Regions from separate parts of the Homo sapiens genome. Here regions 1 and 3 are each linked to region 2. Evidence: fine-mapped expression QTL. A gene starts in region 2. Each other region holds a variant in brackets. All regions are shown on one strand. Distances are from middle to middle.

What was found. PIP is the estimated chance that this variant, and not a neighbour inherited with it, causes the effect.
Region 1: its variant is fine-mapped to the expression of INIP in blood mononuclear cells (TOPMed, PIP above 0.99). The same link has a PIP of 0.9 or more in whole blood.
Region 3: its variant is fine-mapped to the expression of INIP in whole blood (TOPMed, PIP above 0.99). The same link has a PIP of 0.9 or more in fibroblasts, lung, lymphoblastoid cells and monocytes after interferon gamma.

The regions. Positions count from the first base shown.
Region 1 is chr9:112,738,244-112,741,007 of GRCh38, reverse strand. No RefSeq gene overlaps it. Among named protein-coding and RNA genes, the nearest start is that of SNX30-DT, 11 kb to the left of the region's middle. The variant T/C (reference allele first, on the strand shown) is at 1,523.
Region 2 is chr9:112,716,570-112,719,333 of GRCh38, reverse strand. It overlaps INIP (INTS3 and NABP interacting protein), which reads left to right and starts at 1,217. Exons shown (of 5, transcript NM_021218.3): 1 at 1,217-1,347. RefSeq lists a silencer at 1,006-1,165 and an enhancer at 1,536-1,635.
Region 3 is chr9:112,682,551-112,685,314 of GRCh38, reverse strand. INIP (INTS3 and NABP interacting protein) reads left to right here. Exons shown (of 5, transcript NM_021218.3): 5 at 1-1,389. Among named protein-coding and RNA genes, the nearest start is that of INIP, 34 kb to the left of the region's middle. The variant A/TATGA (reference allele first, on the strand shown) is at 1,347.

The DNA of each region.
Region 1 (2,764 bases), 22 kb before region 2:
TATCGAGGTAAGGTGCCTTTTTTTTTTTTTTTTTTTTTTTTGAGATGGAGTTTTGCTCTTGTTGCCCAGGCTGGAGTGCAATGGCACAATCTCGGCTCACTGCAACCTCCACCTCCCGGGCTCAAGCAATTCTCCTGCCTTGGCCTCCAGAGTAGCTGGGATTACAGGCATGCACCACCATGCCTGGCTAATTATTTGTATTTTTAGTAGAGATGGAGTTTCACTATGTTGGCCAGGCTGGTCTCAAACTCCTGACCTCAGGTGCTCCACCTGCCTCGGCCTCCCAAAGTGCTGGGATTCCAGGTGTGAGCCACCACACCCGGCCAGTAAAGTGCCATTCTAATCACATCATATATGTTAATCTGTGTTGCATTGCTGTAAAGGAATACTTGAGACTGGATAATTTATAAAGAAAAGAGGTTTATTTGGCTCACAGTTTGCAGGCTGTACAAGAAGCACAGTGCCAACATCTGCTTCTAGTGAGGCCTCAGGAAGCTTATAAAGTCATGACAGAAGGCAAAGGAGAAGCCAGCCTATTACGTGGCAAGAGAGGAAGCAAGAGAGAGGAGGAGGTCCCAGGCTCATTTAAACAACCAGCTCTCTTGCCAGGTGTGGTGGCTCATGCCTGTAATCCCAATACTTTCGGAGGCCAAGGCAGGCAGATCACCTGAGGCCAGGAGTTGGAGACCAGCCTGGCCAACATGGTGAAACCTCATCTCTACTAAAAATACAAAAATTAGCTGGGCGTGGTGGTGCATGCCTGTAATCCCAGCTACTCAGGAGGCTGAGGCATGAGAATCATTTGAACCCAGGAAGTGGAGGCTGCAGTGAGCTGAGATTGCACCACTGCACTCCTGCCTGGGTGACAGAGTGAGACCCTGTCTCAAAAACAACAACAACAACCACCTGTCTTGTGAACTAACAGAGTGAGAACTCACTCATTACCATGGGGAAAGTACCAAGCCATTCATAAGGGATCCACCCCCATGACCCAAACACCTCCAACAAGGCGCCACCTCCAACACTGGGGATCACATTTCAATATGAGATTGGAGGGGACAAACATCCAAACTAGATCATCATATCAAGGGCACATACTGTCAACATGGCTTATCACTGAGGGTGTTAAACTTAATTGCCTGGTCAAGGTAGTGTTTGCCAGGTTTCTCCACTGTAAAGTTACTCCCCTCCCCGATATGGCATAATGAATTAGACATCAATAAAGCTGTTACAAGAAAAGATGAATGATAATCTGGAGAAAGTTATTTGGAACACAAATGACTCACAAGGTATTAATATCTTTCTTTTTTTTTTTTGAGACGGAGTCTCGCTCTGTCGCCCAGGCTGGAGTGCAGTGGTGCGATCTCGGCTCACTGCAAGCTCCACCTCCCGGGTTCACACCATTCTCCTGCCTCAGCCTCCTGAGTAGCTGGGACTACAGGCACCCGCCATCACGCCCGGCTAATTTTTTTTTTGTATTTTTAGTAGAGACGGGGTTTCACCGTGTTAGCCAGGATGGTCT[T/C]GATCTCCTGACCTCGTGATCCGCCCGCCTTGGCCTCCCAAAGTGCTGGGATTACAGGCGTGAGCCACCGCGCCCGGCCCAAAAAATACAAATTATCAAAATATGTATTCAGTCTCACTAGAGATCAATAAAATGTTGATGAAAACAAAAAGATACAATTTTTGCTTGTCCTACCAGCAAATGTTAAAAGACCAATAAAAGGTAAGGAATCATGCTTTATGAGATTTAAACAATTTGGGGGGCCTTCCTCAAGAAAAAGAATTCAAAATTTCAAATATAAAAATTAGTACAAGGCCAGGCACTGTGGCTCATATCTGTAATCCCAGCACTTTCATAGGCCGAGGCAGGAGGATTGCTTGAGCCCAAGAGTTGGAGACCAGCGTGGGCAATATAATGAGACCTTGTCTTTACGAAAAATTTTAAAAATTAGCTGGGCATGGTGATGCACACCTGTAGTTCCATCTACTCAGGAGGCTGAAGTGGGAGGATGACTTGACCCAGGAGTTCAAGGCTACAGTGAGCTATGATCATGCCACTGCACTCCAGCTTGGGAGGCAGAGAGAGACCCTATCTCAAAAAACAAAGAAACAAACAAACAAAAAACCCTGATACAAAGCTGAATATTAATTTGGAAAATAAATCGCCACAATTATAAATTTTACAAAACTGATAAATACCGCAAACATCACAAACGTATTAAAATTATTAGCTGCCTGGCACACCTCTATCATACTATTTTCCATAGTCTTTGAATGCATATTCTTTACTAAATTCTTCATATGACAACTATTTTATAGTATTCCAAAGAGAATAGAAAGATAATGAAGTCTTTCTTCTAGCATGGCTGATTGAAATTTGCTTTGCTTTTTTATTATTAGTAGTTTACAAAACTTTTTTTCAACTTCAAATTTGTTGTTGGTAATGTACGAAAATGCCCCCTGATACCTCAGCAGGCTTACCACCGGACATTCTTGCTATTTATAGTACTGTTACAGATTTTTGGCCTACAAACCCAGGAATTCTTATTCTGTTTCAGGTAAGTTCCACCTAAAAGAAAGAAAGAAAAAAAAAATCTAGGCCCAGGCACAGTGGCTCACGCCTGTAATCCCAGCACTTTGGGAGGCTGAGGCAGGCAGATCACAAGGTCAGGAGATCGAGATCATCCTGGCTAACACGGTGAAACCCCATCCCTACTGAAAATACAAAAAATTAGCCAGGTGTGGTGGCAGGTGCCTGTAGTCC
Region 2 (2,764 bases):
TAAATTTGAATCTTAGCTCGCTACTTGACATAGAGCAAGAAACATGAGTCTCAAATATAAATCAGGGAACAGCAGGACCAGAGCTGATGCACAGGAAGCACCTCGCATTGTAGAAGGCACTCAATAGCTGCTTGGTATAGAGTAAATACATGCTTGGTTTTCAGTAAATAAATACTTGATATTGAAACGATTATTTCAGTCATTGATCCATGCACAAGAAAATTGTGCATCATAAACATTTTACTCTTGAGCAAACATCAATTATTAAAAACATATGTTCAAATTCATTATCCATTCTATTTAATTAAATGCTTGAGGCGCTTGGGGAGCTTACATTTGTGATTTAAGTCTGTGCGTTTTTCAAATGTATCTTTCGGAAGAGATTAAGACACTGCAATTTTAAGCAGGGCAGGTGGCTCACGCCTGTAATCCCAGCACTTTGGGAGGCTGAGGTGGGCAGATCCCTTGAGGCCAGGAGTTCAAGACCAGCCTGGGCAACAAAGCGAGACACTGTCACCATAAAAAATATTTTTTTAAATTAAAAAGAGTGCAATTTGAACACATGTCAATATACGATTACCTTTTAATTCAAATGTGTAGCTATCTACTGTGCTGGAATCAGGTGGGCAGCAGGTGATCCCACTAGTGGCAACTTGGTGTTCTGCGATGTGGCACATCCACTTCTTAAATGCAGATTATTGCACTGTAATAAAAATCCTCCATATTCAGTGCTTTCATTGTGTATAATTATGTAAACTGTAGACAAAAAATATTCCTGAATTTGTGTGTGTGTGTGTGTGTGTGTGTGTGTGTGTGCGGATGCGCAATCCGAGATGGTTGTTAAAGCTCGAAAGCGAGTTTAGCTTCTAGAGTCGCCCCTCCTCCGAGGCCCAGCCGAGGTGGACTCGCACCGTCGCAAGACCGGCCAGGCGGTGGCAATGAATAAAAAGCCAGTCTTGGTGCTAGGGACCCAGGTGTTCTCCGTCCCGCCCCTGCCTGGCAGCCCCGCCCCTCCCCCGCCCCGGGCCACGCCCCACCCTGGCCCAGCCCCCAAAAGTACCGTTTGCATCTCCCGTGAGCCTCTTCGACTGTCACTCTTTGGAAAAAAAAGTGACGTCTGCACTGAGGTGGCCGCTAAAGTGCGAATCACGACGGGCGGTGGCCGTTGGGTCCCGGCGGGAGGCGGGGTTTCCGCTCCCTGGGGCGCACGTCAGTCAGGAGGCGGAAGCGCAGCGGGGGCGGGAAGGTTGTAGTGCCGCGAGTTGAGCTCCTCTTGCCTAAGTGGTCGCGCCCCCTTTAAGAGCAGCGATTGTAAGGAGAGGCGGTCCCGGTGTCCTCGGGTCCCAGGTAAGTACGACAGTCTGGAGGCACCGGGCAATAGAAAAGTGTGGCTCCGGTGCTAACCTGTCGCCGCCGTCTTTGTTGCTACAGGCAGCGACCTCCCTTCCGACCTTGCCACCTAACATTTCTGGCTCCTACTTGCTTCCTTCGTCTCGTTCACAGCCCGGGCCCAGCCGGCTCTGCACATCCGTAGGCAGGGACCTTTCTGGCACGCCAGTCTACCCTGTCACAAGATGGCCCTGTTGTCCTCCAGTCCTAACCCCGCATTGCTCGCTCTGTGTTTCAGCCGCTGGAGACACCTAACGATTCATTTACTAAAAACCGGTGTCTGTTTTCTATCCCTTGTGTCTTTCCCGGGCTCCCTAGACTAAGGCATCACTCTTTGCTGCCAATGAAATCAATTCTTTGCCTCCGGCACTGTGCCCACCTTTTAAAGAGCGGGTTTGTTAAGCTTTTTTTTTTTTTAATTAATAGTATGGTTGCTTGAATAAGACTTTATTTTCCCTTCTGAAAGCAGGATTAGGGTCTTGCTCATCTTGGATCTCCCCAGGATTTAGTACGAAAGCACGAAGTTTGGAAACCAGCAGCCCAAATAATTCCTACTAGCTCTATGACCCTGGGTACGGTTTCCTCATCTATAAAATGGTGATAAATAAATAAAGGAACTAATTTCGAGCATGTTACACAGTGTATGGTGCAGAGCAGATACAGTACTCCTTTACCTTTTTTAGCTTTCAGTGTACACAGTAGTTTTTGGGTATGTGTTTTAGACGAATGCAGAGACACCATAGATGAATGATTTTTCTTCCTAGCACCATGATTATATTGACTCTATCAATTGGTTGATATATTTGGTAAATACAACCTAATGACGTTTATTAAAGACAGTAATGCTAAATGGTATGAACATCTGCAAGAATAAACAATGCCGTATTTAATTAAATGCTTGAGGCACTAGCAGAGTTTACATTTGTTTCAGTCTGTGTACATTTCAAATGTATCTTTCTTTCTTTTCTTTTTTTTTTTTTTTGAGACCGAGTCTCGCTGTCTCGCTCTGTGGCCCAAACTGGAGTGCAGTGGCGCGATCTCGGCTCACTGCAACCTCCGCCACCCGGGTTCAAGTGATTCTCCCGTCTCGCCCTCCCGAGTAGCTGGGACTGCAGGCGCTTGCCACCACACCCGGCTGATTTTTTTTTTTAATTTTATTTTTAGTAGAGACTGGGTTTCACCATGTTAGCCAGGATGGTCTCGATCTGCTGACCTCGTGATCCGCCCGCCTCGGCCTCCCAAAGTGCTGGGATTACAGGCGTGAGCCACCGCGCCCGGCACAAATGTATCTTTCTGAAGAGATTAAGAAACAGCAAACATTTCATTGTAAGGAGGCTAGCTGTTCCTTTTAGTTTGTGATTAAAATATGGTGCAT
Region 3 (2,764 bases), 34 kb after region 2:
GCAAGCCACAGCCTAGGCAACATAGTGAGACCCCTGTCTCTACTAAAAAATTAAAAAAAAAAAAAAAAGATTGGCTAGGTGTGCTGGTGCATGCATAGAGTCCCAGCCACTCGGGAGGCTGAGGTGGGAGGATTGCTTGAGCCTGGGAGGTTGAGGCTGCAGTGGGCCATGATTGCACAACTTGGCAACAGAGTGAGACCCTGTCTCTAAATCAATCAATCAAGCGAGCCAGAATGCAGTAGTGGCCTGAGAGAGGCATCCTGGAACGCAGTGCGGTCTGGCTAGGCTTAGAAGTATTCATGTGATTTTTACCTGACAAGGGAAGGAAGAGCTGCTCCACGTGCAGAGCAAGGTTTCAGAATGAGAGGAGAAGAGCAGGCACTGCAGAGGGTGAGGGAAAGGGCAGCAGTGGACTGGGAAGCCCTCAGGTGGAGGTCAGCATTGCTTCCCTCAGATCATGGGTGAATTTGAGGAACTCAGTTAATATCTTTGTATGTTCCTCCCTCCATAAGGTGAGAACAAGCACATGCTCTGCCCATGTCAGAAATTGTCTAGACTAGTGTTTTTCAAAGTGCAAAAGCCTCAACCCATTACTGAGTTGAGAAGCCAACTTAATGGTTTAACAGGATTGACCAGCATTTTTTCCGAAAAAATCAAAAACATCTGAGTGTACTGCATATAGAAATAGGTGGTTTTGCCTCATGAATATTCTGTTTCTGTGTGTTCCTATATTTTACTTTGTATTGTGTTGGTTTTTTAAGAGACAGTCCTGCTCTGTCATCCAGGCTGGAGTGCAGTGGTATAATCATAGCTCACTGCAAGACTCCTTGAATCCCTGGGCTCAAGCAATCCTCAACCCTTAGCCTCCCAAGTAGCTGAGACTACAGGCACATGCCACCATGCCCAGCTAATTTTTTTTTTTTTTTAATTTTTGTAGAGACAGCATCTTGCTATGTTGCCCAGGCTGGTCTTGAACTCTTGGCCTCAAGCAGTCCTCTCGATCCTCCCACCTTGGCCTCCTAAAGTGCTGAGATTACAGGTGTGAGCCACTGCATCTGGCTTACTTATTTTGTCTATTGTCTGTTCCACTAGTATGTAAAGTCTTAGAGAGCAAGAATTTTTGTTTATTTCTTTCTCTTCCTCCTTTCCTTTCTTCCTCTTTTACTTCGTTCACTACTGTATTCCACATAAAATATATTTGGCATATAGTAGGTGTTCAATATGTTGAAGGAATGAAAGAATTTATAGACTTGAGTTGCAATATAAAATGTATTTTTTTTTACTGTGAGTTATGGCAAAAAAAGTTTTGAAAGCCGCTTCTAAATAATGCAGATGTCAGTGCTTTG[A/TATGA]CCCTGGAATAAAAACTGAAATGACTTAGTGATTTCAAAGGCATATTTGTTTTCCTGAACAATCTATAAACTGTCTCATTAAGTTGTCTCAGTTATTTGCTTCACTTCGGCAACAGAACCTCAGCCTTTACATGTGTTTAAAGCCTCTTGAGGCAAAGGATTTGGAAAATATGGTTACATGGAGAATAGAAGATAATGAGAGAGAGTATCAATTCATTAGTGCAGTTGAACCCCTCTATTGGAATCCCATCAGCGAGCACAAGTCCCATTTCAACAGCAATAAATGCAACAAGTATTTGCTGAGTGCTTTTCTTATTCACCTCTATATCCATGGTGACTTCTACACAGTTGATACCCACGATTCTTTTTTAAAGAGATGGGGTCTCACTGTGTTGCCCAGGCTGGACACTGGGCTCAAGTGATCCTCCCACCTCAGCCTCCCAAGTAGCTGTGACTATAGGTGTGTGCCACCATGCTCAGCCACAGGCTTTTTTTTTTTTTAACAGGGTCTCACTCTTGTTGCCCAGACTGGAGTGCAATGGCAGCATCTCAGCTCACTGCAACCTCTGCCTCCCAGTTTCAAGTGATTCCCATGCTACAGCCTCCTGAGTAGCTGGAATTACAGGTGTGCGCCACCACGCCCAGCTAATTTTTTATGTTTTTAGTAGAGACGGGGTTTTGCCATGTTGGCCAGGCTGCTTCTCCAACTCCTGGCCTTAAGTGATCCACCTGCTTCGGCCTCCCAAAGTGCTGGGATTACAGGTCTGAGCCACCGCACCTGGCTGGCCACAGGCTTTTTAAAAATGTGCAAATAATGAACATGGACAATGAGGAAGAGAAGGAGGACAGTCACTGTCCTCAAGAGTCTGACAATCTAGATTGGTTGAGACAAGCACACTAAAAACCAATCCTAGGAGCAGCCTGGAGAGGAGAGAATGGGGACAGGAGCCCGAAAGGACCAATAAAAGCTACATCAGAACAAGCATTGGAACTTGGCTTTCAAGATGAGACGGTTTCAGCCAGGAAAGAGAGCAACATTCAGCCAGGCGCGGTGGCTCACGCCTGTAATCCCAGCACTTTGGGAGGCCAAGGCGGGCAGATCACGAGGTCAGGAGATCGAGACCATCCTGGCTAACACGGTGAAACCCCGTCTCTACTAAAAAATACAAAAAAAAAAAAAAAAAAAATAGCTGGGTGCGGTGGTGGGTGCCTGTAGTCCCAGCTACTCGGGAGGCTGAGGCAGGAGAATGCGGGAACCCGGGAGGCGGAGCTTGCAGTGAGCTGAGATCGAGCCACTGGACTCCAGCCTGGGAGACAGAGCCAGACTCCGTCTCAAAAAAAAAAAAAAAAAAAAAAAAAAAAAGAGCAACATTCAAAGCAAAGGAAACACCTGCACAGAGGCAGGAGGAAAGCAGGTT